Regions from separate parts of the Homo sapiens genome. Here regions 1, 2 and 4 are each linked to region 3. The links come from fine-mapping of genetic effects on plasma protein levels. A gene starts in region 3. Each other region holds a variant in brackets. All regions are shown on one strand. Distances are from middle to middle.

Region 1 (8,098 bases), 170 kb after region 3:
AGGCTCAGGAGGACCCAGGCTCAGGAGGACCCAGGCTCAGGAAGGTCCCAGGCTCAGAAAGACCCAGGCTCAGGAGGACCAAGGCTCAGGAGCACCCCAGCTCAGGAGGACCTTGACTCAGAAGGACCCAGGCTCAGGAGGACCCTGACTCAGGAGGGTCCCAGGCTCAGGAGGACCCCAGGCTCAGGAGGACCCCAGGCTCAGGAGGACCCTGACTCAGGAGGACCCAAGCTTAGGAGGACCCAGGCTCAGGAGGACCCTAGCTCAGGAGGACCATGACTCAGAAGGACCGAGGCTCAGGAAGACCCAGGCTCAGGAGGACCCCCAACTCAGGAGGGCCCCAACTCAGGAGGGCCCCAGGCTCAGGAGGATTCCAGGCTCAGGAAGAGCCAAGCTCAGGACTATTCAGGTTCAGGAGGGTCCCAGGCTGAAGAGGATCCCAGGCTCAGGAGGACCCCGACTCAGGAGGACCCAGGCTCAGGAGGACCCCAGGCTCAGGAGGACTCAGGCTCAGGAGGATCCCAGGATCAGGAGGACCCAGGCTCAGTAGGACCCAGGTTCAGGAGGGCCACAGGCTCAGGAGGACACAGGCTCAGGAGGACCCTGACTTAGGAGGGCCTCAGGTTCAGGAGGACACAGGCTCAGGAGGACCCCGACTTAGGAGGGCCTCAGGCTCAGGAGGACCCCAGGCTCAGGAGGACCCCAGACTCAGGAGGGCCCCGGGCTCAGGAGGACCCCAGGCTCAGGAGTTACCAGGCTCAGGATGACCCAGGTTTAGGAGTTCCCAGGCTTAGGAGGACCCAGGCTCAGGAGGACCCCAACTCAGGAGGACCCTGACTCAGGAGGACTCAGCTTCAGGAGGACCCAGGCTCAGGAGGACCCAGGCTCAGGAGGATCCTGACTTAGGAGGGCCCAGGCTCAGGAGGACCCAGGCTCAGGAGGACCCCAGGTTCAGGAGGACCCAGGCTCAGGAGGACCCTGACTCAGGAGGGCCCCAGGCTCAGGAGGACCCAGGCTCAGGAGGACCCCAGACTTAGGAGGACCCAGGATCAGAAGGACCCTGACTCAGGAAGACCCCAGGCTCAGAAGTTTCCAGGCTCAGAAGGACCCATGCTCAGGAGGACCCAGGCTCAGGAGGACCCCAGTTCAGGAGGACCCTGACATGGAAGGACCCAGGCTCAGGAGGACTCTCACTTAGGAGGGTCCCAGGCTCAGGAGAACCCCAGGCTCAAGAGGACCCCAACTCAGGAGGACCCTGACTCAGGAGGACCCCAGGTTCAGGAGTTCCCAGGCTCAGGAGGTCCCAGGCTCAGGAGGACCCTGACTCAGGAGGGCCCAGGCTCAGGAGTTTCCAGGCTCTGGAGGACTCCAGTTCAGGAGGACCCTGACACAGAAGGACTGAGGCTCAGGAGGACCCTTACTCAGGAGGGTCCCAGGCTCAGGAGGACCTGGGCTCAGGAGGGACCCAGGCTCAGAAAGACCCCAACTCAGGAGGACCCTGATTCAGGAGGGCCCAGCTTCAGGAGGACCCAGGCTCAGGAGTTGCCAGGCTCAGGAGGACCCCAGTTCAGGAGGACCCTGACACAGAAGGACCCAGGCTCAGGAGGACTCTGACTTAGGAGGGTCCCAGGCTCAGGAGGACCCCAACTCAGGAGGACCCTGACTCAGGAGGACCCCAGGCTCAGGAGGACCCAGGCTCAGGAGGACCCCAGGCTCAGGAGGACTCAGGCTCAGGAGGACCCCAGGCTCAGGAGGGCCCCAGGCTCAGGAGGACACAGGCTCAGGAGGACCCCAGACTTAGGAGGACCCAGGATCAGAAGGACCCTGACTCAGGAAGACCCCAGGCTCAGAAGTTCCCAGGCTCAGGAGGACCCATGCTCAGGAGGACCCAGGCTCAGGAGGACCCCAGGCTCAGGAGGACTCAGGCTCAGGAGGACCCCAGGCTCAGGAGGGCCCCAGGCTCAGGAGGACCCAGGCTCAGGAGGACCCCAGACTTAGGAGGACCCAGGATCAGAAGGACCCTGACTCAGGAAGACCCGAGGCTCAGAAGTTCCCAGGCTCAGGAGGACCCATGCTCAGGAGGACCCAGGCTCAGGAGGACCCATGCTCAGGAGGACCCAGGCTCAGGAGGACCCCAGTTCAGGAGGACCCTGACATGGAAGGACCCAGGCTCAGGAGGAACCCAGGCTCAGGAGGATCCAGGCTCAGGAGGACCCTGACTTAGGAGGGCCCCAGGCTCAGGAGGACCCAGGCTCAGGAGGATCCCAGGCTTAGGAGGACCCAGGCTCAGGAGGACCCCGGCTCGTGAGAACCCAGGCTCAGGAGGGTCTTGTAGTTGGTTTAATGCTTTGTTGTTGCCCTCTTAAAATTCTTAGTTATTTCCATCTGGAATGTGGGACCTCTGTTTTCTCTTTGCAGAGGCTCTACACATTCTGTAGCCGATCCAGCTCCCAGCCCCCACGCTGGGTGGGTCAGAATCCTCATTTCCTACCCCAGCACTGTGGCTGCCCATCTGTGAAATGGGTTTAGTGCCCACTTCCTAGGGTGGCCTGGGGTGGCGAGAGAAACAGAGACAGAGTTTTGACTTCCTGGGGTGGGTGGTGAGGGGTGGGGGACAGGGAGAGAAGAGACAGGGAGGGCAGGCAGGGCAGGGACAGGCCCCTGCCTCAGTCTAAAGTCTCTCACTCTTTTTCCTGTGGCCGCCCTCTTCACTCCCTCCTGGCCAGTCCTCAACCCTCCCCAACAAGCCAGGAAGACTCGGCATGAATCCCGTGGAAAAGAAGTGGCTGCACATTTTCCGAGATGTTTTAAACATTGTTTTGGCAAGACGGCGGCTCCTCCACGGCCCAAGTCACCCTGACATAAAACAAGCCTGACCAAAGCCAGGGCCCCAGCCCGCCGGCCTCCTCCGGCCAGCCAAGGTCTGGCTGCCATGCACTCATCACCTTCCCAGCCCTGCCCCTCCCAGATGCCGGGCACACCGGGCGGGGGAGGCCGGCCTGCCTCTTCAAACGGCCTCTTTTTAAAGCCAAGGAATGCCTCTTGATGCGTTTGTTTCTGTGGTTGCTAACCAGCAGCATCGCATGGTCTGGGAGGCCAGCAGGACACCCGGGTGACTGGTTTCATGCTCTGCACAAACTGGGCCAAGAAGGGGCTCCAGTCAACTAGCGTAGCCCCCCGTGGTGCAGGGGGAGAAACTGAGGCCCAGAGACAGGGGAGGAGGTTGCCAGGGTCCCAGATCAAGTGGCCATACTATGGGTGCATTCTGGGTCTTGCCTCTGAGAGGCAGGTCCCCGTGCTAGCCTGGCAAGGCTGCACAGGCATCGGGTTCCTGAGGGAGCATGCGTGTTGGGGGGAACGCAGGCAGCCTGTCTCCCCCACCTTATTTCTTGCCCCGTTGCATCAACCCTGTGCAGCGAGGGATAACATTGCCTCTACTTTACAGACATAAAACCAAGGCTTGGAGAGGTGAGGTGACCTGCTCATCACAGGCTGCCCCAGGTGGAACTGGGATTCCATGGGGTTGGTGTCTGGAGCTGGATCAGGCCCAGCCTCGTGGGCAGTCCCGCCCTGCAAATGGACAGGCCTTTGAGGTGGGTGCAGAGGTCCCAGCCTCCGCCTGCAGGGCCCTAGGGTCCTGGGATGGATGTAGCAGCCTGGCCTCATATCCTGCTGGGGCACTCGGGGGAAGTCGCGCCATCCCTCTAAACCCTCAGCTCCCCCACCTGTGAAGGAGGGCACGGGGCCATAAACATTAAGGACCTCATTGCTCCTAAACTACCTGGCCCAGGACCTGATTTAGGAAGAGCAACAAAAGGCAGCAGCCCCTTCTGGAAAGGAGGTAATACCTGCAAAGGGCTCGGACGTGGGAATAGGAGTCGATCATGCTGGCCAGGCTGAGACAGGACCCAGGCTGCCTGATGTGCATGGAGACAGGTCAGCCCAGCCCCACCCTGACATAAGCAGACCTCCCTCCTCCCCGAGTCTCAGGTCCCCTCAAGGGGCCAGGGGCTCCAAGAGCAGTTCCCATGGAGTGAAAGAGCTCTGCCATCTCTGATGATGCCACTGTGTCCTGCAAATTAAACTGACAAGAGGCAGATTAGGAAGAGGAAAAAAATGTTTTCATGTAGAAATGTACATGGGAGACCACAGGAAAATGGGATTCAGAGGAGTGGTTAGAATCTGGGGCTTACATATCCTCTTAGAGGTACACAAAAATCAGGGGAGAAGGAGAAGGGCACACACAGGAAAACGAATGGCTTTTTGGAAAGGTAAATGGGCCCTGAGGTGGACAGATTTGGGGTAGC[G/A]TGGCTCTGGGACCACGCCCGTATCCGTGTGCTATGGAGGTTTCTCGTCACTGACTATGATAAGAGTCCATCTTCCCTGGCCACTCCAGGGAGGGATGTACAGCAGTTGAGTTATTTCTAGTTCTTTTGGGGGGCTCTGCTTTTATTCAGATAAGGGGTTTCTGAAACTCAAATGCCTCCTGCACAAAATAATTTTATGCCCCAGCGGCGTGTTCTGAAGTCCCTTCCCCTCCCCCAGACCTTCCATCTGGCAGGTAAGCATCTCTGCTTTGTACCTAAAGAAACAAGGGCTCAGAAAGATTCAGACCTGCTCAGAGTCCCTGAGGGGGCACCATCAGCCACCCAAAGCCACCTTGCCCTGAGGCTGCACGCCCCAGAGTTTGGGAGCACAGCTGCTTGGTGCTGATAGGACAGCGCCCCAGGGGCCTCCAGGATGGCAGAGCCGCCTGGGAGCTGCTCAGGGACAGGGTCGTCCTCTGCTGATGCACCCTGGAGCGTCTGGTTGTCCCAGTGTAACTCCAGGCTGCTGGTACCGGAGTCTTCTCACTTTCCTCCCTCCCTTCTCACGGGTCCCCTCTGGGCTCTCGGCTCATGTCCCTGCATGCAGGTGGGTGTAGCAGGGTGGAGGGGTCCCTGGAATGGGGCTGGGGGAAGTAGAAAATCAAAGGCCACCCCGGAGCTCTGCTTTGCTTCCCGCCTCCCCAAGCTGGACACTTCTGCAGGGCCCAGGTCATCGGCATACTTCAGGGGCCCAGCACCAGGTGACCCCATCTCCCAAGTGCAGACCTGGAGTGGACAAGGGATCCGAGGCCAGTAGGCCCATTGGAACTGAAGCAAGGGACATGGGCAGTGGCACATGTGGCACAGAGTGGGCACTAATGGAGGGGCGGCTGGGTGAGCGGGGCAGAGGCGCGTATGGTGCAGAGTGGGCACTAATGAGGGGGCGGCTGGGTGAGCGGGGCAGAGGCGCGTGTGGCGCAGAGTGGGCACTAATGAGGGGGCGGCTGGGTGAGCGGGGCAGAGGCGCGTGTGGCGCAGAGTGGGCACTAATGAGGGGGCGGCTGGCTGAGCGGGGCAGAGGCGCGTGTGGCGCAGAGTGGGCACTAATGAGGGGGCGGCTGGGTGAGCGGGGCAGAGGCGCGTGTGGCGCAGAGTGGGCACTAATGAGGGGGCGGCTGGGTGAGCGGGGCAGAGGCGCGTGTGGCGCAGAGTGGGCACTAATGAGGGGGCGGCTGGGTGAGCGGGGCAGAGGCGCGTGTGGCGCAGAGTGGGCACTAATGAGGGGGCGGCTGGGTGAGCGGGGCAGAGGCGCGTGTGGTGCAGAGTGGGCACTAATGAGGGGGCGGCTGGGTGAGCGGGGCAGAGGCGCGTGTGGCGCAGAGTGGGCACTAATGGGGGGGAGGCTGGGTGAGCGGGGCAGAGGCGCGTGTGGTGCAGAGTGGGCACTAATGGGGGGGAGGCTGGGTGAGCGGGGCAGAGGCGCGTGTGGTGCAGAGTGGGCACTAATGGGGGGGCGGCTGGGTGAGCCGGGCAGAGGCGCGTGTGGTGCAGAGTGGGCACTAATGGGGGGGAGGCTGGGTGAGCGGGGCAGAGGCGCGTGTGGTGCAGAGTGGGCACTAATGGGGGGGAGGCTGGGTGAGCCGGGCAGAGGCGCGTGTGGTGCAGAGTGGGCACTAATGGGGGGGCGGCTGGGTGAGCCGGGCAGAGGCGCGTGTGGTGCAGAGTGGGCACTAATGGGGGGGAGGCTGGGTGAGCGGGGCAGAGGCGCGTGTGGTGCAGAGTGGGCACTAATGGGGGGGAGGCTGGGTGAGCCGGGCAGAGGCGCGTGTGGCGCAGAGTGGGCACTAATGAGGGGGCGGCTGGGTGAGCGGGGCAGAGGCGCGTGTGGTGCAGAGTGGGCACTAATGAGGGGGCGGCTGGGTGAGCGGGGCAGAGGCGCGTGTGGCGCAGAGTGGGCACTAATGGGGGGGAGGCTGGGTGAGCCGGGCAGAGGCGCGTGTGGCGCAGAGTGGGCACTAATGAGGGGGCGGCTGGGTGAGCGGGGCAGAGGTGCGTGTGGTGCAGAGTGGGCACTAATGGGGGGGCGGCTGGGTGAGCCGGGCAGAGGCGCGTGTGGTGCAGAGTGGGCACTAATGGGGGGGAGGCTGGGTGAGCGGGGCAGAGGCGCGTGTGGTGCAGAGTGGGCACTAATGGGGGGGAGGCTGGGTGAGCGGGGCAGAGGCGCGTGTGGTGCAGAGTGGGCACTAATGGGGGGGCGGCTGGGTGAGCCGGGCAGAGGCGCGTGTGGTGCAGAGTGGGCACTAATGGGGGGGAGGCTGGGTGAGCGGGGCAGAGGCGCGTGTGGTGCAGAGTGGGCACTAATGGGGGGGCGGCTGGGTGAGCCGGGCAGAGGCGCGTGTGGTGCAGAGTGGGCACTAATGGGGGGGAGGCTGGGTGAGCGGGGCAGAGGCGCGTGTGGTGCAGAGTGGGCACTAATGGGGGGGAGGCTGGGTGAGCGGGGCAGAGGCGCGTGTGGTGCAGAGTGGGCACTAATGGGGGGGCGGCTGGGTGAGCCGGGCAGAGGCGCGTGTGGTGCAGAGTGGGCACTAATGGGGGGGAGGCTGGGTGAGCGGGGCAGAGGCGCGTGTGGTGCAGAGTGGGCACTAATGGGGGGGAGGCTGGGTGAGCGGGGCAGAGGCGCGTGTGGTGCAGAGTGGGCACTAATGGGGGGGCGGCTGGGTGAGCCGGGCAGAGGCGCGTGTGGTGCAGAGTGGGCACTAATGGGGGGGAGGCTGGGTGAGCGGGGCAGAGGCGCGTGTGGTGCAGAGTGGGCACTAATGGGGGGGAGGCTGGGTGAGCCGGGCAGAGGCGCGTGTGGTGCAGAGTGGGCACTAATGAGGGGGCGGCTGGGTGAGCGGGGCAGAGGCGCGTGTGGTGCAGAGTGGGCACTAATGAGGGGGCGGCTGGGTGAGCGGGGCAGAGGCGCGTGTGGCGCAGAGTGGGCACTAATGGGGGGGAGGCTGGGTGAGCGGGGCAGAGGCGCGTGTGGTGCAGAGTGGGCACTAATGAGGGGGCGGCTGGGTGAGCGGGGCAGAGGTGCGTGTGGTGCAGAGTGGGCACTAATGGGGGGGAGGCTGGGTGAGCCGGGCAGAGGCGCGTGTGGTGCAGAGTGGGCACTAATGGGGGGGAGGCTGGGTGAGCGGGGCAGAGGCGCGTGTGGTGCAGAGTGGGCACTAATGGGGGGGAGGCTGGGTGAGCGGGGCAGAGGCGCGTGTGGTGCAGAGTGGGCACTAATGGGGGGGCGGCTGGGTGAGCCGGGCAGAGGCGCGTGTGGTGCAGAGTGGGCACTAATGGGAGGGGGCGGCTGGGTGAGCAGCGCAGAGGTGTGGGGAAGAGCTGAGGCATGACACCGGGGCCTCCAGGAGAGGCAGAGGCTGCCGGCTCTACCCCCAAGAGGCCGGCAGGACTCCCTTCCTATCCAGGAAGCCCCATGATGTCCCATCAGAGCTCATGACACCGATGTCATCCACAAGAGCTGGCCCCGGTGAGTGTCAGGTCCTCACAAGTGAGAGACATGGCCAGGACCCCCACAATGCCTCAGCTCCTACCCCATGTGCTCACCAGCCCTGGCATCCCCTTGCCCAGGAGGGGCACAGAGCATCATAAACCATCCTCCATCTCCCCCACTGTGTCCTCCACAAAGGACTCAAACTTCCAGCACAGAACAGGAGCTCTGCCTACAGCGGGGTCTCCAGGAGCCGAGGCTGCAAACCCAGAACTAACTGGCCACCTAGGTCCCAGACTGGCTTCCC
Region 2 (8,098 bases), 190 kb after region 3:
GCGGGAGCCATGGGGCCTCGACAAGCACAGGCCCTGCTGCTCAGGCCCGTCTGCAGAGGCCTCAGCGGCCCACCTGCAGAGTGGGAAGGGGGTCTGTGGGGGGGTTCCCCGTGGGCCTTAAAAGTCCACCAGAGGCTTGACCAAGGTGAGCCCAGAGGGAGGGTGCAGGCCTTGGCCCCTGGTAGACTGAGTGCCAGAGGGCAGGGCCTGGGTCTCAGGGCACAGCACCAGTCAGCTGTCAATAAACACCGGTGGATGCGACTCCGAGGCCTCCGGCAGACACGCTCGTCCACACCATGGAACTGGGCTTCCCCTTCAGGCTTCATTTCAAGGCGTTTCTGAGACTACACCTGGAGATGACAGGACACTACACCACAGTCCAGAGACCCTGTCTGTGACGGCCTCAAGGCAGAAGTACTTGCCACGTGGCAGGCAAACCCTTCCTGCCCTGGGGGTCCCCTTGCACTAAAAAGCCTCAGGGGTCTGGGGCAGGTCTGGGAGAGGCTGTGTCCTTCGCCCAGAGGCCTGGGCTCCATCAGGGTGCAGCACTGTCCCTGGGAAGCCCTTGGACTCTTGGGCAGAGAAGCAGCAGAGAGAACCACCCCAGCTCCTGAGATTTCAGGGCAGGCAGGACCCAGCTCAGGATGACCCCAGGGCAGGAGGGACAGAGATAGTGACCAGAAGCTGGGGACACTGTGAGAGACACAGACCCCGGCCCCACCCCACAGGACACAGAGGGACACAGACCCCGGCCCCACCCCACAGGACACAGGGGGACACAGACACTGGCCCCACCCCACAGGACACAGAGGGACACAGACCCCAGCTCCACCCGACAGGACACAGGGGGACACAGACCCCAGCCCCACCACACAGGACACAGGGGGACACAGACCCCGGCCCCACCCCACAGGACCCAGAGGGACACAGACCCCGGCCCACCCCACAGGACACAGATGGACACAGACCCCGGCCCCACCACACAGGACACAGATGGACACAGACCCCGGCTCCACCCGACAGGACACAGGGGGACACAGACACTGGCCCCACCACACAGGACACAGAGGGACACAGACCCCAGCTCCACCAGACAGGACACAGGGGGACACAGACCCCGGCCCCACCACACAGGACACAGAGGGACACAGACCCCAGCCCCAGCTGACAGGACACAGGGGGACACAGACCACGGCCCCACCCCACAGGACATAGAGGGACACAGACCCCAGCTCCACCCAACAGGACACAGAGGTACTCAGACCCCAGCCATACCCTACAGGACACAGGGGGACACAGACCCGGGGTCCACCCCACGGGACATAGAGGGACACAGACCCTCGGCCCACCCCACAGGATGCTGGGACGATGGAGACACCCAGCCGCATGCTACAGGACACTGTGGAAACCGCTGATCCTGGGGCCATTGGAAAGCAGGGAGCCCTGAGGGCCTGGCCATGGCCCCCCTGCCAGCCCGGACCCCCATAGCTCTGCCTTGGAGTGGAAGCTTAGCTCTAGGCAAGGCCGGGCCATTTCTGTCCAGGAGCCTGTGGGGTCAGATGGGGTAGATGCAGGCTGAGCAGGGGAAGGCACAGCTGGAGCTCGGAGGGCGATTGGGGACAACCCAGCATGTCCAAAGTTAGGGACCCCCTCTCCCAGCTACAGCTTCCCTCCTTCTGGGAGAGACCCCTGTTGGTGGGCTGTCGGGCTGGAGCATGGCCGGCAGCTGGCCCGAGCCATGTTTCGTGGGGTGTGTGTCACCACGCAGTCCGCGAGCTTCATAGTTTCCCACTGACGTCACCGCATGGCTAGAATGTGAAGTGACTGCAAACCCTCAGAGGCATAATTGCAGTTGTCTTTGCAAAGTGAAATCAGATGGCTTTTGCAAACCTCCCCCAGCCCTGCCTTCTCCCCGCGGCTCTCCCTTTTTTTTTTATTATGTTCCTTGGGCCACATCCAGATGTTTCCTGCAACTACAACCCTCCAAAAGTTACACAAAGAGAGCGAGAGCGTGCAGCTTCCTGCCTGCAGGGTGGAAGTGGCGACGTGGCAGGGTGGGGGCGGCCACGTCTACAGGGTGGGCGGGGGCGACCACGTCAGCAGCTGGGGCAGCAGGCTCCAGGCAGGTCCCAGCCCCCTGCCTCCTTGTGCCTGGGGTCTGGGCGCTGAGAGACAAGGCCGGAGGGCCACGGTGCATGAGGGACAGCCCCTTCCGGCCGCTGCGGCCCTGGCCCAGCAGTGGGCCGAGTGGAGACCGCGGCCGGGAAGGAGCAGGGCACCTCGGTCAAGATCAGCCTTTGGGTTCGGGCTGCTCCGGGCGCCACTCCCAGCTGCGCTACTTACACGTGTGGCCTGGGAGCCACGTCTCCACCGGAACCTCTGTTTCCACGGCGATAGGGGTGGTTGCTGGGAGCTTTAATTAAAACCAGTCTCTGTCCACTGCTGGCAGCAGGGAGCGCCTCACCTGGACCCAGGCACCTAGGACAGGTGTGGTCTCGGAAGACACAGCAGAGCCCGACACGGAGGGGCTTACAGGGGAAGGGCCTTGAAGGAGGCCCAGGGTTTCCTGAGGCACAGGCAGGGAAGGGGGGCCGAGGCGAGGAAGCGGCTTTATCAGAGGCCTGGCAGCTGGGCACAAACGCCGTGGGGGCCCAAGGCGTCCCTGAGAGAGACGCACGTGAGGGTCTCTGGAGAAGGAGGTCCGCCATTTCCAGGGAAAGGGGACACCTGTAGGTTTCCCCTGCGGCATCCCTCTGTCCTGTCTGCCTCCCTCGCCCAGAGGATTCCCAACTGTAGGGGGCAGGCAGGGCTGGCTCACGCCTGACCTCAGTCCACAGCCTGTCCCTCTCTGACCTAGGCCATCCCTGGGTGTAGGCACAGTCCCTGGTGGGCAGAGCTGGGAACGTGGACAGGTGGAGACAGGTGTCAAGGCCAGGCAAAGGCTCAGCAAAATGTCTAGAGGGGGTAAAATGGCCCCCGAACCTTCCAAGGGCTGTTTCAGAAATAGGACTTGAAAGTTCGTAGTCAACCCAGGCTGACACCTCCTCATCACCTGCCTTCAGAACCCATCCATGGAAATGCTGACACTGCAGTTCAGGGTCCCCAAACCACCCTCAGGCTCAGGGACGTGCTGGACTGGCTCACAGAACTCAGCCAGGCAGCGATACCCGAGGTCAGGGTTTAGCGCCGTGAAAGGACATAGCCTCGAACCAGCAAACTGGGCATCTCTAGAGGGCAGGGTTTAGGGGAGACCAGACTCCAGCACCCAGGGGTCTTCTCTCAGTAGAGTCGGGCAGACG[AT/T]GCTCAATTCTCCCAGAATGGTGTGCACCAGCCAGGGGGGCCCAGCCACGCCTCGGGGCTCAGGGTTCCTACTGGGGGTCCATCGCAAAGACATGCCTCACTGCCCGTGTGCTTGGCCTTGGTCTCATCCCCAGGATGATGAGCCGATACAGCACAGCCCAAGGTCCCACTGTAAATGACATCATTAGCGCGGTCACTAGGGTGGCCCAAGACCCCCAAGCAAACACAGACACTTATCACGCAGTATATTTCAAGTGGCTAGAGGTCAGAGGTCACCTCCCAGGAGCTAGGCCAGAGCCAGACCTTTCTTTGGAATGTGCAGGGTGTGGACAACTCAGGCCTGCTGAGTTAACCCTTTCCTGCACAGTGACCAGAACCCACCAGCACCCCACTGGGAGGTGATCAGCTTGAATGAGTCCCGACTGAGGCAGGAGAGGGGAGGAGGCGGAGAAAACCACAGACAAAATTACAGTCCAGTGGGAGCCAGGGCAGCTGGCGTCACCTCCATTTTACAGATGATGTGGGATGGAGGCAGGAAGAGGGGTTATGACGTGCCCAGGTCACAGAGCCAGCCTGGGATGGTGCCAGAACCCCACCCTGATCTCATGCAGCTTGCTCCTGTCACCCCTGGCCCCGCCTCTTCAGCAGTGGAGGAGACAAATGGGGCCTGGCCCATGCCTTGACGGGGGCCCTAGAACTGGGGGCCTGGTGGTGGCTGCCTCCTGGGAAGTATCGGCGTCTCTCTTGAACTAAGGTGGAGCTTGGGTTTTGAGAGCAAGCGCTCTTTGCAGTGGCCACGTGCTGGGCCCTGCTCAAACCTCTTCGGACTCCCAGAAAGAATGAGGTCGGGCCCTTTCCACCCTGAAATGTGCAGCAAGCATCTGAGAAAGGGGAGGGCAGTGCTAAACCCTCAGGACGGAGCCCAGCGGCTGTGATCCCGGGCAGCAGGGAGGCAGTGTTAGGGGAGGGGGAGGCCTCCTTGCTGCCCCCACCAAATCACACGGACCATAGGGTGTGGATTCCAGAACAACTCCCTCTTTCCACAAAAGGGAAAGCCGAGACCTCGAGTGAGCAGAAAGGATGAGCCTGTGGTCACACGGAGCTTGTCCCAGGCCGGCCGCTCCCATGCTGCTGCTCCCATGCCGCCGCTCCCAGGCTGCCCATCCAGCTAAGGATGTCCCTGACACGGGTTCCTTTGGATTCTTCATAGAAACATTTTGGAAGATTCATGTCTAAGGGTTTTAATGAAAATGGCAGCTTTCCAGGCTGGTCTTGGATAGCAATCGTGAGCAGCCCCGCCGGCCAGTGCTCACCTGGGGCCCCAACCACTCGGGAGGGGGAGGGGGCATGTTGAGTCAGCAGCAAGAGAGATTGCAGTTAGACCTAAGAAAGTCCACCCAAGTGAGAGCCAGATGGCCATGCCTGGTTATAGACAAGTTTCAGGAGCCCCTCCACAGCCCCCCACCCCAGCACTTCCTCCTATAACATGCAGGTACAGGGCCTGGAAGTTCACAGGCACACGCACAGTAGCCTAAAAGCCTCAGTGATCTCGGGAAGTCCTCATAAACAGTGGTTGGACCAGGTGATACCGTCCAATGGTCTGGCCAGCATAGCTCAACGTTTATGGACTCTTCGGCACGCAGGCACCATTCTGCCCTCCCAGGCCGATAACCAGAAAGGCATGCCATGATTCTTCCAATTAGCTTAATTGGGAAATTGGTTCCATGTGGTCTCAAGGGCCACCATCTATGGGAGAAGGCAGGTCAGCGGGACAGCGAGTCTCCCAGCACCAACCCACAGAGCCCCCACCCAGAGGGAGCTTACGGGCTCAGAGCAAGGAGCCTTATTCCACACCTCCTTTTCTCCTTGTACTTCCAACCCCACCATCTGGGGTGGAGCTCTAGCTCATGGTAGATGCTCTGAAAACCGTGGCTGTAAGCAGCTGGACCTCCAGGCCCCAGTGTTCGTCACTATAAGATGGGGAAACGTCAACACTGGCCCAGGGGGCAGGAATAAGATGATTTGAACCATGGGTCTATAAGGAGCACCTGGTGGGGAGGTCATTAAAGGCCCTTGGTTTCTTCAAGCTGACCTGGACCTTCATGAGCCCTACTTGGGGCACCAGGGAATTGGGAGATTTTCTTTTCCCTATTTCGCACCTGAAGAACTCCTGTTCATCCGTCAGTGCCCTGCTCCAGTGCTGCCTCCTCTGGGAAGCCATTCAGCCTCCTCTACCCATGGTTGCCTCTCCTCCATATTCCCATCGCACCTTGATTATGGCCTCCTCATGGCACAGATCAGCCCACATTTGCTGCCCACATGCAACACCATGAGAATATTCTAGACCTGCACTGTCCAATGCACAAGCCACTTGCCACATGTGGTTTCGAGAGCCTGAAATGTGACCTGTACAAATTGAGATGTGCTATAAGGCTAAGATAAACACCAAATCTCAAAGACTTGCCACCAAAATATGAATGTAAAATATCTCAATAATTGTTATATTGATTGCATGTGGAAATTATAATATTGTTTATGTATCGGGTTAAATAAAATATTACACTTATTTCACCTGGTTTTAGTGTGGCTACTAGGAAATTTTAAATTAATTACATATATGGCTCACATTGGATTTCTGTTGAACAGACTCTGCAAACTCTGCTCTCTCCTGGAGCCAAGTACAGGACCTAATCCATGCAATTTCCAGTCTGTATTTGCTGAATGAATAGGTGGATGGATGAATTCTGGGTGGGTGGGTGGATGAGTGGATGGATGGGAGGGTGGATGGATGGATGAATAGATGGGTGGGTTGGCTGGGTGGATAGATAGGTGACTGGGTGAATGGATAAGTAGACAGATGGGTGACTGGGTGGGTGGGTGGATGGATGGATGAATGGATGGATGGATGACTGGGTGAGTGAATGGGTGGTTGGGTGGATGGATGGGTGTGTGGATGGATGGATGGATGGATGGATGGATGACTGGGTGAGTGAATGGGTGGATGGGTGGATGAGGGTATGTGGATGGATGGATGGATGGATGGATGGATGGATGGATGGATGGATTGGTGGGTGGGTAGGTGGATGTGGATGGATGGATGGATGGATGGATGGATGGATGGATGGATTGGTAAGCGGATGGATGGATGCATGGATGGATGGATGGATGGATGGATGGATGGATGGATGGATGGATTGGTGGGTGGGTAGATGGATGGATGGGTGAATGGATGGGTGGATGGGTGAATAGATGGGTAGATGGATGGATGGATGAATAGATGGATGGATGGATAAATTGGTAAGCGGGTAGATGGATGGATGGATGGATGAATGGATTGGTGGGTGGGTAGGTAGATGGGTAGGTGGATGGATGGATGGGTGGGTGGGTGAATAGATGGGTAGGGAGATGAGGTGGTGTATGCACAGGGCTAAACACCATGAGCCTTGCCTTGGAGCCTCTGATTCACCATGGTACACCTGTGCACTTGTGAAATGCAGACAACTTGTGAAATTTACAAAACCACAGTTCCCACCTCTTGGAACTACACCCAATTTATTCATGTGATCAGCCCCAGTGGGTGCCTGCCTTGGAGTCTCAGGGGACCTGGTTAAGAAGATGGGAAGCTCTAGCCAGCAAGGAGTGAAGAGGTTTGCAAACACACTCTTGACCAAGCCTAAAGACTAAATCCAGACCGTGCTCAGGCTGGATTGGGCCTGAGGGAGGGGAAGACTGGGAAGACTGGGAGCTGGCCTTCTTCTCAGGGAGGAGTCTATAAGGCAGAGGAAGGGATGGAGGGAGAGAGGGAAGGGAAGGAGGGAGCAAAGACACAGGCCAGGCAAGCCTCCTGAGCAGGAGGAAACGTTTGTGAAAGGTGAAAGAGGCATTCGAAGGGGGATTGAGAAGAAGCACTGGAATTGCTGGATGTCTGGGCGATACATCCAGCAATTCCAGCACATGTCTGCCTGGGCAACATGGAGAACCCTCAGCCCCAATGGTCCCCGCCTCATCACCAGCCTCTCTCCCCATGTGTCTCTGTGTTACTCTTTGCACACCTCAGTTCTCTCCTGCCTCTGAGCCTTCGTATATGCTGTTCCCCCAGCCTGGGATGCCTTTCCCTGTATTGCTGTGTAGTTGTGCTATAGACAGAATATCTGTGTCTCAACAAAAGTCATGCATTGAAATCCTAACCTCCAAGATGATGATGTTGGGAGATGGGACCTCTGGGAGGCTCTGCCCTCATGAGTGGGATGAGCACCCTTATAAAAGAAGTCTCTGAGAACTGCCTTGCTCACTTCTGCCATGTGAGGATGCAGACAGAAGCAGCCAGCTCTGAACCAGCAATGGGCCCTTGCCAGATACCAAATCCGCAGGTGCCTTGATCTTGGACTTCCAGCCTCCAGGACCATGAGCAATAAGCTGCTGTCTGTGAGCCACCCAGCCCAAGTGGACTAGGACAGGTCGGCTTCCCGTGGAGGCCCCACCTGCCATGCTGTCCAAATCAGCAACCCCACCACCACCTCCCACACTCACTGCCTTCCCCATGACTTGATTCCTCACATGCTTATCTGGGACCAAGGGCTCCAGCTCCAGATGCAGGCATCCACCAGCCTCAAGGCCAGGCACCACAAGCAGGCCCCAGGCATGCCACTTTCTCCCCTCTGTCTTCCTTTGACCTCAGAAGGCACCCTCCTGAGGCTTCCTGCAGTCTCTGGGGACAACTTAGTTGTGTCCCAGTGGGGTTCAACTCATTAGAATTCATAGTCGCTTTGTAGTTGACAAGGTCTGCTCCAGAAGGACC
Region 3 (8,098 bases):
AGCAGGGCTCGTCAAAGGGAAACAGGAGGAACGGGGGCAGAGAAAGGGTTAAGGAAGCTGCCAGGATCTGCCACTTCCCTTAGGGGCACTTGTATTCTCCTGGCAAACAGATACTGGGAGCACCTGCCAAGCCCGTGAATGAGGGGCTTTCCAGCCAAGGGAGCCGCCCAGGAGAGCTCTGGGACACGGTGTGGAATGTCCTGTCAGAAGGAGGGAAGAGAGCAAGATTAAAGCCAGAGGTGGAGGAGGACCCCACGAAGGAGGGTCATTTCTGCAATAAAAGGAAGGAGAAGAGAAGGAGGGAAGGCCAGTTTCACATCACCTCCTCCAGGAAGCTCCCCAGCTCTCCCCAGTGCAATTAACCCTCCCAGACTGTCGGATGCAAGACCCAGCACATCCCATGGAGGGCCCTGAGTAAAATTCACAATGGTCTGCCTGTCAGACTGTGAGCTCCTGGAAGGAAACGAGGGGTCCCATCCCATTTGCCTCGGTCTCCCCAAGATAGGCCCGACCCAGGTGAAAAGGCAAAAGCCTTCAGGGTCCAGGCAGGTTATGCTGATGTGCAGAGAGGCCTGGGAAGTGGTGGAGACTGTGGCTGCTGCATCCCTCTTGAAGGCACTGGAGTAAAAAGAGAAGGGATGGAGGGACAAAGGGAAGGAAGGAAGGGGATGGGAGAGAGGGAGGGAGGAAGAGAGGGAGGAAAGAAGGAAGGAGGGAAGGATGGAGGGGGAAGGAGAAAGAAAGGAACTTAAAAGCTGTGTTGGCCAAATGGAATGGCTCTGCTCCCAGGACCCTGTTTGGACTGGGCCCCCAGGCCAGGACTATAGCTCAGGGCCCTGGCCTTCTCCCCGGGGAGAGCTGATAAACCGATGGGAAGTGAGAAGAGGGAACTGTGACAAGTCAAAGAGTGACCATGCCAGGCGAAGGGCCGTTGCTGGCTTAGGGCCCCACAGCAGGAATGGAAGACATCTGCCTGGCATCCCTGCCCCCTGACTCCTAGGCTCTGTCCCTTCTCAGGCCCGGGTGAGGGTGCAGTGAGATGGTGCAGCTGATGCTCACCACAGGCCAGGCAAGTGCCAGCCCCTCCATTCCCATGTGTGATTGTCTCCCAAGGCCATTCCCAGAGCCACGTCACGTGACCGAGCAGGGACAGGTCCTGCACTGTTCCAGATGCAGCTTGGCTCAGGCTCCTATGTGGGTGCCCTCGGGAAGTGTTGGGGACTCATCCTCGCCCTCCAGCGGGGCAGCTCACTGCTCTGCACAGCCCCTACTCCACCTATCAAGGTCTATCTCCCAGGAGGTGGGATGGGGCGGTCCAGGGAGGAGGCAGGGCAGGCAGACAGGCCAGGCAGCGAGAAGGCAGGGCGGGACGGGCAGCACCAGCTGTGTTCGGCTGAGGCGTGGCGGTGGGGAGTCCAGAAATATCTGCAGGGCGGGGTGAAGAGCAGGCTCTGGCCAGCCCCGCAGGAGCAGCCCAGGAGTAACATCACTGGAGAAACCACTGTGAGCCTGGCACTGGGAGCACGCCCCTGCCTGGGGCTGCCGCACTGCTGGGTGGGCACAGCCCTGGGTAGCAACCAAAACTCCAACCCCTCCGGCAAATCTGGACCACAGCAGGGAGAGGGCTTGGGGAATTCTTGGGGCTTCTGAGCTCCTCCCACTCACTGCTCTTTTATGGGGAGAGGGAGGGAGGGGGCAGAGGATGGAAAAGGATGTCTTTCCAGCCAACTTGATTGAGTCAGAGGAAATTTAACCATTTGATACCTGTCAAGTCTCACAAAACTTGGCCGACTCTCCCCACAAATTATTGCAAAAAGCAATCACGTGACTGGAGTCAACCAATGGCGTGTAGAGGAGATGACCTCAATTTCCAAATATTGGGGTCATGTTTCATTTCCCATACTCTCCTTCCCCGTTACACTGTTCAGCAGCCCCAAATGCAATCTTACTTTTCATTCCTTCACACACTTGGCCAAAAGAAAGCAGGCAAAAGAACTGTGTTCAGAAAACCCTCAGAAAACATCTGGCAGATCCGAAGATGGAGAAGACAGCAGGCACTTGCTGGTGGCTCCCCCCCGCGCCTGCCTCTCCAGTGGACAGCCGCCCCCTCCCCGCCACGCCTGCATTTCCAGTGGACAGCCGCCCCCTCCCCCCAGCGCCTGCATCTCCAGTGGACAGCCGCCCCCTCCCCGCCACGCCTGCATCTCCAGTGGACAGCCGCCCCCTCCCCCCAGCGCCTGCATCTCCAGTGGACAGCCGCCCCCTCCCCCCAGCGCCTGCATCTCCAGTGGACAGCCGCCCCCTCCCCCCAGCGCCTGCATCTCCAGTGGACAGCCGCCCCCTTCCCCCAGTGCCTGCATCTCCAGTGGACAGCCGCCCCCTCCCCCCAGCGCCTGCATCTCCAGTGGACAGCCGCCCCCTCCCCGCCACGCCTGCATCTCCAGTGGACAGCCGCCCCCTCCCCCCAGCGCCTGCATCTCCAGTGGACAGCCGCCCCCTCTGGCCATGCTCGAAGGATGACTTCCAAATAGGTCCCACCCTGGGAGGTGGAGAGACGTTGGCAAAACTCACTAAGAAAAGTGGTCTCTCCACATGCTTCTAAAAGTCTGTTCTGACAAAAGCAAAATGTCCAACTCCATAGCCTGCTGCTCTGGGCCATCCTCACTCCCACTTCCAACGAGCCGCACTTCGATTAGCGAGGGCAACCAGAGAGGGAAAAAGACAGTGTGGAGGTGGGGAGATGGGCAGGGAGGGAAATGGAACCCCAAGCCCAGTCCGGTGCATGGTCCCCAGGCAGTGCCCTGCCCCAGCTGTCTAGGGTGACGATTCCCCTGAAGGACTCCCTCCTGAGTTTCTGGGGAAAAGTCCCCAGAGGCGCTGAGACAGGGCCTAGTCCCCCGGCAATGGCACAGTCCCTGACCACACCTTCCTTCTCCTCTCCACTTTTCTGGGGACCTCTGTTGTCCCCCACCTTCAGCTAACCCCTGGAGAAACACAAGCCCAGTTAGCCCAGGGTCAGGAGAGAGTTGGTGGCGGCCCAGGGATGAGATCCCAGGTCCTGGGAGCCAGGCCAGGCTCCTGGCTCCTCCCCCAGAGCCCCAGGGCAGCCCCCACACCCAGACTCCAGCTCATCCAGTTAGCCCAACAAGCACTGATCGTGCCAGGGAAAAAGGAAAAGAGTGTTTTAATTGACAAGCGGAACACGGACAATGATTCTTCCCACTTGTCTTCCAATCGTGAAGCAGAGAGAAGCATTCTTGCTGGCAGGCGGCGGGCTGGTCCAGACGTTCGCTGAGCCCACCGTCCCATCGCTCTGCCCGCCACTTCTCCTGACCTGGCAGCACACAGCTCTGAGCCTCCATCTCCCCGCCTGTCAATAAGGATTCGGGGGACCTTCCAGGGCTGGGGGCTCTGATGTTCGAGAGTCTGTGAAAACCCACCCCGCCACTAACTACCAAGAGCGATGCCTAGAAAAACTCCCCCGTCAGGAAGCTGCGCCAGGGAGAGTTGAACCCTCGAGAACCCAGGCAGGGACGCAGACAGTCCCCGCCTTGAAGCGCCCTCCCCGGGAAGCAAGCCTCCTTCTAAGGGCTGACCCTTGGCAGAAGGAATCCCACATCTGCATATCATCCCAACCACTCACAGCCCCGCCTGCAAGCCCATCTCTGGCTTTGCTCCACGCATCCCATCTCTCAGCAGCGAATCCAGGAAAAGCTGCCTTCCAGGGATCAAGAAGTTTGGGGGTGGGATTAGGAGCAGGGCTGTCTACCACCCTGCAGGGGTCCCCAGTGCCCCCGAACACTTAGGTGACCAAGGCTGCAGGAAACGCTGTCCCTGGGGAAAGCAGGGCGCCAGCTCAGCCTAGAGTGACAGTGCCTGGGGGAAGTTCAGTGCTGGGGGCCCAGGCTTCTGGGATTCCCCCCATCCCCAGGAGTCCCGGGATTTGAAGGGCTGTAACTCTAGGGGGCGGCCCTGCCCGGTTTGGAGCAGAGGAAGTTCTGCTGTAGGGCTGTGAGGGCCCAAGCTGGGCGCCTGTGATGTGGGACAGAGAAGGAAGGTTTTTGGGACAAAAGTTTGCCCGCCTCGTGGACAACCCCTCCTGCTGATCCAGCCCTCGGTCCTTCCTCGGCTCGCGCGACAGCCCCACCCGACCCGCCCGTCTGGGGAGGGGGCGGCGGCGCGCCCGCGGGCATTGTGTCTGCGTGTCGTCATCTCGGGGGGGCCCCCAGCAAATGGCATTCGTGGTCTTGGCCCGTGCATTCCACAGGCCAAGGAAGAAAAGTTCTGCGGGCGAAGGCGCCCGGGGATGACAGCGGCGCCCGGGCTGCGCGCGCCCCATCCCGCAGCCCCGCGCCCCGGGGCGCCCTTACCTGCGCGGCTCGGAGGCGGCGCCCACAGCAGCAGCAGCAGCAGCGGGGGCAGCAGCGGGGCGCCCGGGCGGAGCGCGCTGCGCGCTTTCCAGCGGGTATGGACGTCCATGCCGGCGGGGCGCGGGCCGGGGCGCACAGGGGCGCTCGGAGGCGCGCGGGGACGCACAGGGGCGCGGGTCACGGCCCGGGCAGCGCACTCAGCAGGGACCGCACCACTTTAGGAGGTCATGGGGACCTCGGCACCCCCCGTTCTTCTTTGTGGCGGCGGCTGTTCTGGAAGGGGCGGCTGGCGCGCTCGCCCACGGGCGGGAGGGCTCGACTTTGGCCCGCGGGGCGGCCGGGACCCCGCTGGGCTAGCTCGCCCTCGCCTCCTCCTCCTCCTCCTCCAACTCCTTCTCGCCTCCTCCTCGCCGCCGCCGCCCCGCGACCCGCTCCCCGTGGGCGCTCCGCTCGAGTGAGGTCCTGCGCCAGCCGCGGGGACGGAGAGTGCGGACCTCGCCTTCGGCGCGGAGCACTTTTTTCCCCCTTTTCCTCCCTCCCTCTCTCCTGGAAGGCAGCCGCGGAGGCTGTCGATCCCCAACGCCCGCAGCAAATCAGAGCCCGGCGCTGGGCTCGGCGAGGCCAGCCCCCGCCTCCCACTGGGCGCCGCGGGCGAGGGGGTGGGGACAGCGGGCGAGTCGCAGCGAGGAAGGGGCTGGCCCGGGGCGGAGCGGACGTGGGGCGGGCGCGGCCCCCTGTTCTTTCTCTGAGAGCCGGTAGGCGGGCGGGCCTGGGGCGGCCTCGGAGCCCAGGGGCCCACCCTGGTCCCCCCACTGTTCCCACCCCAGGTGCCCGCACCTGGCCATGCTCCAAGAACCAGTGCAGAGGGGCCCCGAGGTTTGATCACTTCGGGTTAAAAAGAAAGTTGCAGTTTACCCCGCCTAACTTTTTCTTTAACGTGGAGGAGTTCAGAGCTCCTCTTCTGGGTGGAGACTAAACTTCCCATCCAGCCAGATCAGGGCGCCCAAGACTGTGGCCTACGTGTCAACCCGGACCGAGGACCTGCCTCCTAACTGCAGATTGGCACGGGACCGAGCTGGGGTCTGACTTCCCAAGAGCTCCCGGGACCTCCATGTGCTTGGACGGGAACATCTGGGTTATTAATCAGGCGAAGTTTGGCTCTGCGGCCCCCAGGCTCTCACCCCTCACTCCTGCCCACTCCCTGGTGGCCCCTCTGCAATAAAAAGGAAACCAAAGAAGGCATCCCCTTGGGAGTGACAGCTGGCGCAGGGAGAAGGCATTCCTGATCGGCTGCTCTCGGAGAAGAGCTGGGGCCCTGATTCTCCTGCCTGGCTTCTTTAAGCCCCTCGGGGTCTCCTCCAGCAGGAGGCCCGCCAGTCTCTGGGTGGTAGGTGGGCGTCTCTCCCTCCAGCTTCCCCAGGCCTGGCCTCCCTGCACAGCCTCCTGAAGCCTGACCCACACCCCTTCCCCAAGGGCTGCAGGGCTAGTTTTTTAAAAGGAGGGAATCAGAATGAATTAAGAACGATTTGCAAACCCTGGGCCATCCCCATTCCCTTTGAACAAACAATTTAGCCAGAGATGCCAGACAGGGCTGGGACTCCCCTCTCCAGTTACATCTCCAGACTGGGCGTGAAATTCCCCAAATGCTCTTTAATTCTCACCATTCTGGAAACAGGAGGTGAGAGAGGCGTCCGAGGTTAGGTTTGCCAGGATAGCCATGGCAGGCTCCGGAGCTGGGTGATAGGTCGCTGTTGCTAACTTGGTGATGAGGCTTTTAGTCTCCATATCTGCCACATGCGCTTGCATAGATATCAAATATTTCGCAGGAAAAGAATGAGAAGCTCTTCACACACAGACGTGGGGAGGTGCTTGAGATACATTCAGTAAAGCAAATGTTAGTTCTGACCTGTTTCCTTGTTGATTTTATTTTGTTTTACAACTTGTATAAGGCATATGTGATCAGGCAAAAATGTGTGTGAGTTGTGTGCATGTGTGTGTTTGTGTGTGTGCCTGTGTGCGTGTCTGTGCGTTGGTTAACCTGCAGCCACTGGCCCTTTACTTTCCCTGTGGACTTCAATGAGTGAGAAATTCCATCAAACCCCAGACTCCGCGCCAGCCCCAGCTGTGCTTGGTCCTTGGAGTGCCCCCGCCCCTACCAGCAAGGCCAGCTTCACCCCTGAAGACTAGGGGTGCTGACACAGGCCATGGCCTGGTTATCAGAAGAGAGTGGAGGCTTTCTGGTTCCAGCTTCTTTTTCCCCAAGCACAAGTGGAGTTCCTTTCTGACAGTCCCATGTGCACATCCGTGCCAGTCAGCAAGCCCTCCTGTAACTCACAGCCAGCATCTAAACTTTGCCCTGAATTAACACAACTGGCGCCTTAAGAGCTGACACTCAAGTGACCACCCCAAGGTCCCCCAAAAGTTGACTTCTCAGCAATGGTAAGATGGCTCAGTCTTGCAGCTCAAGCAGCCATGACAGATGCACTTTATCCTCTCTTGGAGAGCAAGTGGTGCGGTGGCTTGGAAAGCTGTCAAATGTGAGTTTCCACCCTCATCTGAGCCTTGAGTTGGGTGGAGAGATGAGTTTCTATCCCACCAGGAAACTCAGAGAGAAGTCCCCAAACTTGGCGGCCTGATGTGTCAGCCAGGGACTATGGCAGAATGGCCCGGCAGTACCAATCAGGATTCGAACTGTGTTGCCAAGCTAAGAATATCAGCCACATCTTAAGGCTTTTGCCTCACACTCTTCACCCACACGTGCATCAGTTCTCATGCACCGGTAGGGAATACTGGCATCTCTCCCATCCACAGATGAGGAAATCAGGGGCCACAGAGGGTAGGGGACTTACCCAGTTCATCCGTGACAGGGTCCGGATTTGGACCCAGGTCTCCATGCTTGGAGCCCAGTGTGCACTGCCTGCCTCCCCATGGCATCCGGACCACACGCCTGCCGCCAGGACCACCCTGCCCAGATTCAGACAACAGCAACTGGTGCAGATTGTCCCAAACTCACCATGTTCCATGCCCTCCCACAACTGAGCAAAACCAGAGTCCTTGGAAAACTGCTTATTGCGCGCATACTCCTTGCCAACACCGCTCTAGGCTTTAGGGAGTATGTGGTGAGCAAGGTGCCTGGGTCCCTTCCACATTGACCTGCAATGCAGCAGTGACTCCCACGCCCATGCAGAGGTGGCCCCTTTTTTGCATGTGTGTCTTCCTTGTCTTCTGCTATCCATCGTTTCCCATCTAGCCCTCCCCGGCTGCCTGCTCCTGTTCATGGCACTCACCGCAGAAGGCTAACCAGGTCCTGTACCCTGTGTACTCCTGGGCCACCGGGAGCGCCACCACCCATCACTGCGTGTTTCCCACAGTGCCTAGCAGAGAGTGGAGCAGGCCAGGTGCCCTGCACCTTACACGTGGAGTCCGATGGCCCAACTTCTCCTTCCAAGGCTGTGTTTCCTCTCATTTATTTTTCGAGCGGCAGAGCTGTGGTCCGGACAGAGCGGCCATGGCAACCATCAGGTGTTGCTCTCATGTGGACCTGATGGTTCACCACCAGTCCTGAGGGGTCACACCAGCCTCCCAGAGTCACGTCTGGCTGGAAAATGGCCAGCTGCTTCCCAAGACAAAGGCCTTGAGGGGCAGCCAGATTGTCCCTTCTTCTTCTCCTAGACCCATGGAGGAGGTGGAGGAACAAGGTCTTCTTGGAGTGCCTGGAGGCAGATATC
Region 4 (8,098 bases), 39 kb after region 3:
GGTTTCATCGTGTTAGCCAGGACGGTCTCGATCTCCTGACCTCGTGATCCACCTGTCTCGGCCTCCCAAAGTGCTGGAATTACAGGCGTGAGCCACCACACCCGGCTGCTACTCTGTCCTTTTTCACAATGTGAGGATTCAGCAGGAAGGTGCTGAGACAGGAGGCGGAGCTTGATTCAGGAGGCAGGGCTCCATTCAGGAGGTGGGGTTCGATTCAGGAGGTGGGGCTGGATTCAGGAGGCGGGGCTTGATTCAGGAGGTGGGGCTCAGACACCAGAGGAAATGAGGACAAGCTAAATAAAACAGGAATGGAGAGGAGGGAGCTTTCCATAAGACACACCCACCCACCAATGCGCCATTGTCAGTTTACCATTGCCATGGCAACCATCTGACCACTTGAAAGTTACCACTCTTTTCCTAGAAATTTCTGCATAATCGGCTCCTTGATTTGCATATAATTAAAATGGGTATAAATATGCCTGCAGCCCTGCCTCTGAGCTGCTACTCTGGGCTCACTGCCTATGGGGTAGCCCTGCTCTGCAAGGAGCAGGACCTCGGCTGCTGTGTGCATGGCTGCTTCAATACAAGTTGCTATTCAACACTGTCCTCTCACCCTTGAATTCTTTCCTGCGCAAAGCCAAGAACTCTTGTGGGTTAAGCCCCAATTTGGGGCTCACCTGCCTTGCATCAGCACCTTCTGTAAACCAGGAGACAGGTCCTCACCTAACACCAAATCTGTTGCCTCCAGAACTGTGAGAAATGAATTCCTGGTTTTTTTTGTTTGTTTGTTTTGAGATGGAGTCTTGCTCTGTCACCCAGGCTGGAGTGCAGTGGTGCGATCTCAGCTCACTGCAACCTCTGCCTTCCAGGTTCAAGTGATTCTCCTGCCTCAGCCTCCCAAGTAGCTGGGATTATAGGTGCGTGCCACAACACCTGGCTAATTTTTGTGCTTTTAGTAGAGACAGGGTCTCACCATGTTGGCCAGGCTGGTCTCAAACTCCTCACCTCAAGTGATCCACCTGCCTGGGCCTCCCAAAGTACTGGGATTACAGGCATGAGCCACTGTGCCCAGCCCCTGTTTTTTTTCAAGTGACCTGACTTAGGGTATTTTGTTATAGCAGACCCAGCAGACTATGATGGAAAATAGGTGCTGAGAAGTGGGCTGTTGGTATAACAAACCCCTGGACATGTGGATGCAGCTTCAGAGCTGGATAATGGGTAGAGGCTGGAAAAGTTTTGAGGTGTGTGCTAGGAAAAGCCCACATCACTGTGAACTGACTGTCGGGAATGATTCTGGTGAGGGCTCGGAAGGAGAGCAGGAGAGAAAGCCTCAGTCTTCTTGGAGATGACCTAAGTGGCTGTGAATAGAAGATTGGTGGGGATGCGGACGGGAGAGGCCATGATTGTGAGGTCTCAGATGGAAATGAGGAGCACTTATTGGAAACTGGAGGAAAGGCCATCCTTGTTACCGAGTGGCAAAGAACTTGGCTGAATTGTGTCGCGTCTGGGTGTTCTCTGGAAGGTGGAACTTGTATGCAATGAAACAGGATATTTGGCAGAAGAAATTGCTAAGCAGTGTCAAGAGTGAAGCCTGGCTTCTCTCAATGCTTGGAGTAAAATGCCAGAAGAGAGGAATACTTTAGACAGGTGGAATTTGTAATCAAAAAGGAAGCAAAACTTTAACTTCGGAAAATTCTTAGTCTATCCTCATTGAAAAGAATGAGAAAGTGTATTCAGGAGAAGACACTCAAGGCGTGGCTGCATTCCCATCTGAGAAGGAGACAGTTCCATCTACACTGAAGCCAGGAGCTGTTGTCTAAGACAATGGAAGAGTGGACCGAAGACTTTCAGAGGTTCTGGAGCTGCCCCTCCCATCACAGGCCCAGAATGCCAGGGCCTGGGGGCCAAGATGATTCAAAAGGGGCCACTCTAGCTTAGAATCCACTGGGCCCAGACCTGGCACAGGCCACACTGGCCCTGCTCTCTGGGGACCTAGGGGTGAACCTTTGCTGTGTCTGCATGGTGCTATCTTTGCCAGTTTGCACAGTGCATGAGCTACAGAGCTGTGGCTGCCTCCAGCTAGATTTCTAAAGATGGAGCCAGCTGGAGACACAGGTTCACGACCCACAACATAGACAGGGCATGACTTCAGGGGCTGGGCCCCACAGAGAGGCCCATAGCGGTAATGCCTGCGGGAGCCAAGCTGTGGGGCCAGGGCTCCCTCTCCATCCCAGACCAGTAGAGCCACTGGCTTGTGATTTCAGTCCAAGAGAGTTACAGACGCCACCCAGCAATGTCTCAGGGGCGGTGCCGGAGGAGCCTTGCAGCCCAGTCCCTGCCCCAGTGTGTGCGGAAGGTGGAATGATTATCATTATTATTATTTTTGAGATGGAGTCTCACTCTGTCGCCCAGGCTGGAGTGCAGTGGTGCGATCTCGGCTCATTGTAAGCTCCACTTCCCAGGTTCACGCCGTTCTCCTGCCTCAGCCTCCCGAGTAGCTGGGACTACAGGTGCCCGCCACTACACCTGGCTAATTTTTGTATTTTTAGTAGAGATGAGGTTTCACTGTGTTAGCCAGGATGGTCTCAATCTCCTGACCTTGTGATCGGCCTGCCGCGGCCTCCCAAAGCGCTGGGATTACAGGCATGAGCCACCGCGCCCGGCCTGAACGATTATTCTTGAGTCTAAGACTAGTCTGCCTCACTGGGTTTCGGGCGTGCTTGGGGCCTGTTATCCTGTCTTCTTCACCAGTTATCTCTTTTGGAATGGGAGTGTCTGTGCTACACTTGTCCCACCATTGAATTTTGGAAGCATAACGTGCTTGATTTCACAGGCTCACAGCTGGAGGGAAATCTGCCTCAAGATGAATCGTACCTTTGGTCTCACCCACATCTGATCTAATAAAGGAAAAAAAATAAACAGGCTTTGAGGACTGTTTAGCTGCAGGGAAAATGTTCACCATGTAACGTGAAGTGACAAAGCGAGTTCCTAACTGCAGCTGATTGTCGATCGGCAGAGACTGGCACACTGGAGCAGCATTCGCTGTGATCACACCACGGGCACACACAGAGGAGTCCAGTGTAGTTTGTGTGAGGGAGAGAGAGAGAGATTGGATTTGAGAATGGAACTGAAATTGTGCATGAATGGAATTTGAATTCCAAGACAAACCCCATCTAAATTCTCGCTCCTAGAGATAGCTTAGCCCTGCACAGTTCATCTAACCTGTTTCTACAACGTGGAGTCTTTGGTGGAATGAAGGTAGGGAAAAGCCTCCCTCAGAGGGCTGTTTGAGGGGCGCCCTAATAAAATGCTGATAGTCGAAGAGGCTCTGCAAGCTGTGACGTGCTGGGCAATTGTTCCTCCTAATTTCCAGTGAGAATCGCTTCCACTCGGTGTGTATCCAGAATGAGTATCAGCACAGCTCAAACCTTCTAAGGCTCCGGGACCCAGAGTGGGAGCTTGGGAACACCAAGAAGGCCATGAGGGGAGGGAGCTATGGAGAAGGAGAGAGAGGGAACCACATTGCCAGTGAAAATTCTCCCCCACCTTCTTTTCTTCCCCTCCCTTTCCCTTCTTATTTTTCCCTCCCTTTTCCGTTCTTTCCCCTCCCTCCCTCCCTCCCTACCTTTGTTTCTTTCTCTCTCTCTTTCTTTTTTTCTTTCTTTCCTTCCTTCCTTCCTTTCTCTCTCCTTCCTTCCTTCTTTTCTTTCTTTCATTCTTTCTTTTTTTCTCTTTCTTTCCTTTTTTCTTCTTTTTACTTCTTCATGCATTCAAACACCCATCCAGTGTCCACTGTGCCCCAGGTCTATATCAGGCCTATAACATGAGGCTGGCTCCGTCTAACCTCAAGGAACATCACTTGGGGGACAACGGCTTTTATCACTGGGGGATGCCCGTTCAAGTCCACTGCGTTGTGTCTGCCTTTGTGCGCTCAGCAGAATCCCAGCCACACTCACATTCCCACAAGGACATTCCCCCCATCTCATCCCTTCTGGGTCTCTCTCCCTGTGGCCCTCTGTGCCTAGACTTGGAAAGTTGACCTTCTGTACCCTTTACAATGGTGGCCTTGTTGTTCCCTGGGCGCTGGAGGCCCGAGGAGGCCACTGCTTCTCTGTAGCCTCGCTGTGCTCTGGGCCAGAGTGTGGTGCCCTTGCGCTGGCCCACGATGCCCTGCCTGCCAGGTGAAAGGCACCAGATAACACGACATGTCTTTTTTTTTTTTTTTTTTTTTTTTTTTGAAACAGAGTCTCAGTCTGTCGCCCAGGCTGGAGTGCAGTGGCGTGGTCTCGGCTCACTGCAAGCTCCACCTCCTGGGTTCACGCCATTCTCCTGCCTCAGCCTCCCTAGTAGCTGGGACTACAGGCGCCCGCCACCACACCCGGCTAATTTTTTGTATTGTTTTTAGTAGAGACGGGGTTTCATCATGTTGGCCAGGATGGTCTCCATCTCTGACCTTGTGATCCGCCCGCCTCGGCCTCCCAAAGTGCTGGAATCACAGGCATGAGCCACCGCGCCCGGCCGACATGCCTTTATCGTCATATATACACATAGCAATTAACCAGACAAGAGTTCCTCGTTTCTCTCCTGGCTCTGCCAGAACACGGAGCTGACCCCCTCGGTGCTTGCAGGGGGGCCGCCCTGGCCGTGGTGTTGGTGGCCCAGGGCAGGGTGGAACACCCGCCATCCTCGCACCACACCAGCAGGCTTTTCCTCCAAGAAGAAAGGGGCGGTGATGGGAAGGACGGATGATCCAGTCTTTGTCAGGAAATGGCAATGATGCAGGCCTTGAGCAGGCCTGCGGGTTCCCATAAT[T/C]GCTGGGCTCATCAAAGAAAATCCATCTAAGCAAATTTAAGAAGAGCCAGCCCCCTGGCTGGGAGCTGCTCAGGCCATTTGTCATTACTTCCTCCTGATAAGGCCAGTGTTTCATCCAGGAAGAATGTGGCTCGCGCGTTCCCAGTCTCTTTCTCGGGCCATTCCGAAGGTGGGAGCTGCGGACCTCTCAAGAGCGCAGACGGAGCCCCCGGCTCTGTTTGCAGAAATTCCACTGCCGGTCTGGGCTGTGAATCATGCTCAGGGTTTGGAAAAAGTTGCAGCATCAAAGCCAACTGAGGTTTGGGGCTCATCCCAGATGTGGTGTCGGGGCAGGGGGAAGGGCAGTGTTCCTTCCCGAGGCTTCCCCATAGGCACTATCTGGGGACAGGGTGGGGGTGGGGGCCATCAAGCTAAGGATGGGACTTAGTCACTGGTCAACGTTCCCAGAAACCTGGATTCCTCCAGTTGACCAGCTCAAACCACAAACACAGCCTCTGCATCCTGGTTCTACAATTCTCTAAGGGGCCTCAAACAATTTCTACGAGTGTCCCCAAGTCCCCAGAATAAAACTGTTCCTCAGCAGGCACACAAACCCTTTTACCATCACCCCAAACATCCAGAATGTTGGTGAGACACCAGGAGCTGGGAGTTGGTGGGGGGGGAGTCTTATTACCAAATAGTGGAAGGACCCCCCAGTCATCTGGCGACAGAGAACTTAGAGAGACCAAAGGCCACTTTTTTTTTATAAACAGAGAAATTGAGGCCCAACAGAGCAAAGGAGTCCCCCCTCCACCCCAGGTCCCAGAGCATTAAACAGCATAAACCACAGGACCTGCATCGACTCTAGAAATGTCCACCATTAGGCTCTCCTCCCACGTGACCTGCTGAGGACATATATGCATTTTTCCACTTTATAAGCAAATTTGCAAGACTTCACATGGAAGTCATTCATCACCACCACCTCTCACCCCATGGCCTCCTTTTGCAAGTCTTCACATCTTGCTCTCTGGCACAGCTGGAGTGCACCCCTCAGGGATATTTTTCCAGAAGGGTGTGCTGCCGCTGAGAGCACGCCCTTCTGCGGCCATCACCCACTGCAGGCAGCTCGCTGGGCATGGAATTTAGAGTCACGTTCTCTATCCTTCAGTGTGTGCTGGAGTGTTGTTGCTCCAGTGGCATTTCATTTCATGCTGCAGAGAGATCTTGGGACCAAGCTGATTCTGCTCCTTTGTAAATGAACTTTCTCTCCCTCTCAGGAGGACGTGAACCCTAAGAATGAGGTTTTCGTGTTTCCCATAAGAAATGAGTGCAGCTCAGCCAAGTTTCTCCATAGGATCCAGGGTCCTGCCTGGGCCTGAAAACCTGGACTCCAACTCTGTCCTGTCACGAAGTGGGTTTGTGGCCTTCAGTTGTCACTTCACTCATTTCTTTAGGGAGATAATACTTCCTTCCTGTATCTGCTAGCTCAGGCATGGTTATGCTGGGAAACAAGCATCCCCTGGCATCTACATGGTTTAAAACAAGAAGGAAGTATTTCTTGCTCCTTGTACCTTGAGGGTCAGGGGCCTGTCCTGTACCTCTGGACACCTTCACTCTGTGGTCCTGGCTGCTGGAGCCTCCACCCCCTGGGAATATCGTCCATGGCCGTGGGAACAGAGGACTTCTCTCAGTGCCTCTGCTCAGAAGTAAAATGGTGGCTTCATTTGCAGGAGCAAGTCAAATGACCATGCTCCACTTCAAGGAGGGAGGAGGTGCTGCCCCCTGCCCAGAAGCTGAGGGAGGTGGGCACTGGTGAGAAGTAGGAATGACAGCTCATTCCCTCCCAGGGTCCACATGGGGGACAAGGAGACCCTGACCCCACAGCCAGCAGCACACCCCGGTGTACGCAAACAGCAGCAAATGCAGGGCCTGGGGACTCTGCCCTGGGCGCTCCATGGTCGCTGACAGTTAACTATGGGAAGCTGGAAAAGCCAGAGGGCGGGTGATGGGGCTCTTTCTGCTCCAGGCCACCAGGTAGAGTAGGAAGTGATACTCCTTGAAGTGGCTCAGGGGCAGCGTGTGCACCCAAAGGAGGAGCTTCAGGGAGGGACAGCTGAGAATACGGCCTGGCCTGGCCTGGCCAGCAGAACAGGGACCATGATCCTGTTTACTTCTCCATTGCCCGTGTGGGTTTCTTTTTTTCTTTTTCTTTTTTTTTTTTTTGTTTTTTATAGACTGGGTCTCGCTATGTTGTCCAGGCTGGTCTTGAACTCCTGGGCTCAAGCGATCCTCCTTGGCCTCCCCAGCAGCTGGGACTGCAGACAGGCACCACCACGCCCGGCCCGTGTGAATTTTTTCTTCTCATTTCCCTTTACTTGATGTAGGTTGGGGACCTTACTCTGGAGATCACTCACGGACACTCCTTTGAAAAGGAAGAATGTTGCAACCTGGCAAAAGTGGGATCATCCAATTTTCTAAATCCCCAGGTCCTTGTGATCCTTAAGAAGTGATCTTGTTTTATCTGAAGCTCCAGATGCAACAGAACTCAGGTGGGAGAGTCTGGTTTCAAGTGCAAAGCCCCATGGAATGGGGCGTGGAATCCCCAGCCCACCCCGTCCAGGGCAGCTGGGATTTTATCTTTATATTCTCTCTCTTTTCTTCCATCTCCTTCTCTTCTCTTTCTCTCTCTCCCTCCCTCTTCCTTCCTGCCTCATCCCCTTTCACCCTGTCTCTCTTCTCTCATTCCCTGCTTCTCTCCTCCTTCTCTTTTCTCTCTGTCTCTCCCTCTGTGTCTCTGTCTCCTCTCTCTCCTCTCTCTGTGTGTCTCTTCTGTCTGTGTGTGTCTGTCTGTCTGTGTCTCTCTCAGTATCTGTCTCTGTATGTCTGTCTCTGTGTCTCTATCTTCTCTCCATCTCTATATGTCTTGCTGTCTGTGTGGGTATCTCTCTCTCCTCTCTGTCTCTGTGTGTCTCTCTGTCTCTGTGTGTCTCTCTATGTGTCTCTCTTTTCTCTGTCTCTGTATGTCTCTCTTTTTCTGTGTGTCTGTCTCTGTGTGTGTCTGTCTCTTCTCTCTGTCTCTGTGTGTGTCTCTGTGTGTCTCTCTCTTCTCTCTGTCCCTGTGGGTGTGTCTCTGTCTCTGTGTGTCTCTCTCTGTCTCTCTCTTCTCTCTGTCTCTGTGTGTGTCTCTGTCTCTATATGTCTGTCTGTCTCTGTGTGTGTCTCTGTCTCTGTGTCTTTCTGTGTGTCTCTCTCTTTTCTCTGTCTCTGTGTCTCTCTGTGTTTCTCTTTCTCTATGTCTCTCTGTGTG

Direction of the effects. Alleles are on the strand shown, and positions count from the first base shown. The strength of an association depends on the size of the effect and on how common the allele is.
As copies of A replace G in region 1, the plasma level of the protein whose gene starts at base 4,864 in region 3 goes up (moderate association).
With allele AT in place of T in region 2, the plasma level of the protein whose gene starts at base 4,864 in region 3 is lower (weak association).
With allele T in place of C in region 4, the plasma level of the protein whose gene starts at base 4,864 in region 3 is higher (weak association).

Evidence for each region. PIP is the chance, under the fine-mapping model, that this variant and not a neighbour inherited with it causes the effect. The UK Biobank Pharma Proteomics Project read protein levels with antibody pairs (Olink). The fine-mapping took linkage between variants from a reference panel, not from the people measured, so its PIPs are less certain.
Region 1: its variant is fine-mapped to the plasma level of the COL5A1 protein (UK Biobank, PIP above 0.99).
Region 2: its variant is fine-mapped to the plasma level of the COL5A1 protein (UK Biobank, PIP above 0.99).
Region 4: its variant is fine-mapped to the plasma level of the COL5A1 protein (UK Biobank, PIP above 0.99).

What each region holds. Positions count from the first base shown.
Region 1 is chr9:134,464,053-134,472,150 of GRCh38, reverse strand. The region is part of intron 1 of LOC105376311 (a long non-coding RNA gene); the gene reads right to left. Among named protein-coding and RNA genes, the nearest start is that of MIR4669, 89 kb to the right of the region's middle. The variant G/A (reference allele first, on the strand shown) is at 4,308.
Region 2 is chr9:134,450,325-134,458,422 of GRCh38, reverse strand. The region is part of intron 1 of LOC105376311 (a long non-coding RNA gene); the gene reads right to left. Among named protein-coding and RNA genes, the nearest start is that of MIR4669, 75 kb to the right of the region's middle. RefSeq lists enhancers at 1,021-1,957, 1,958-2,895, 3,239-4,074. The variant AT/T (reference allele first, on the strand shown) is at 3,300.
Region 3 is chr9:134,638,569-134,646,666 of GRCh38, reverse strand. It overlaps COL5A1 (collagen type V alpha 1 chain), which reads right to left and starts at 4,864. Exons shown (of 66, transcript NM_000093.5): 1 at 4,371-4,864. The coding sequence starts at 4,479. RefSeq lists enhancers at 1,339-1,923, 3,179-3,885.
Region 4 is chr9:134,599,656-134,607,753 of GRCh38, reverse strand. No RefSeq gene overlaps it. Among named protein-coding and RNA genes, the nearest start is that of COL5A1, 38 kb to the left of the region's middle. RefSeq lists enhancers at 3,621-4,532, 4,533-5,445. The variant T/C (reference allele first, on the strand shown) is at 4,813.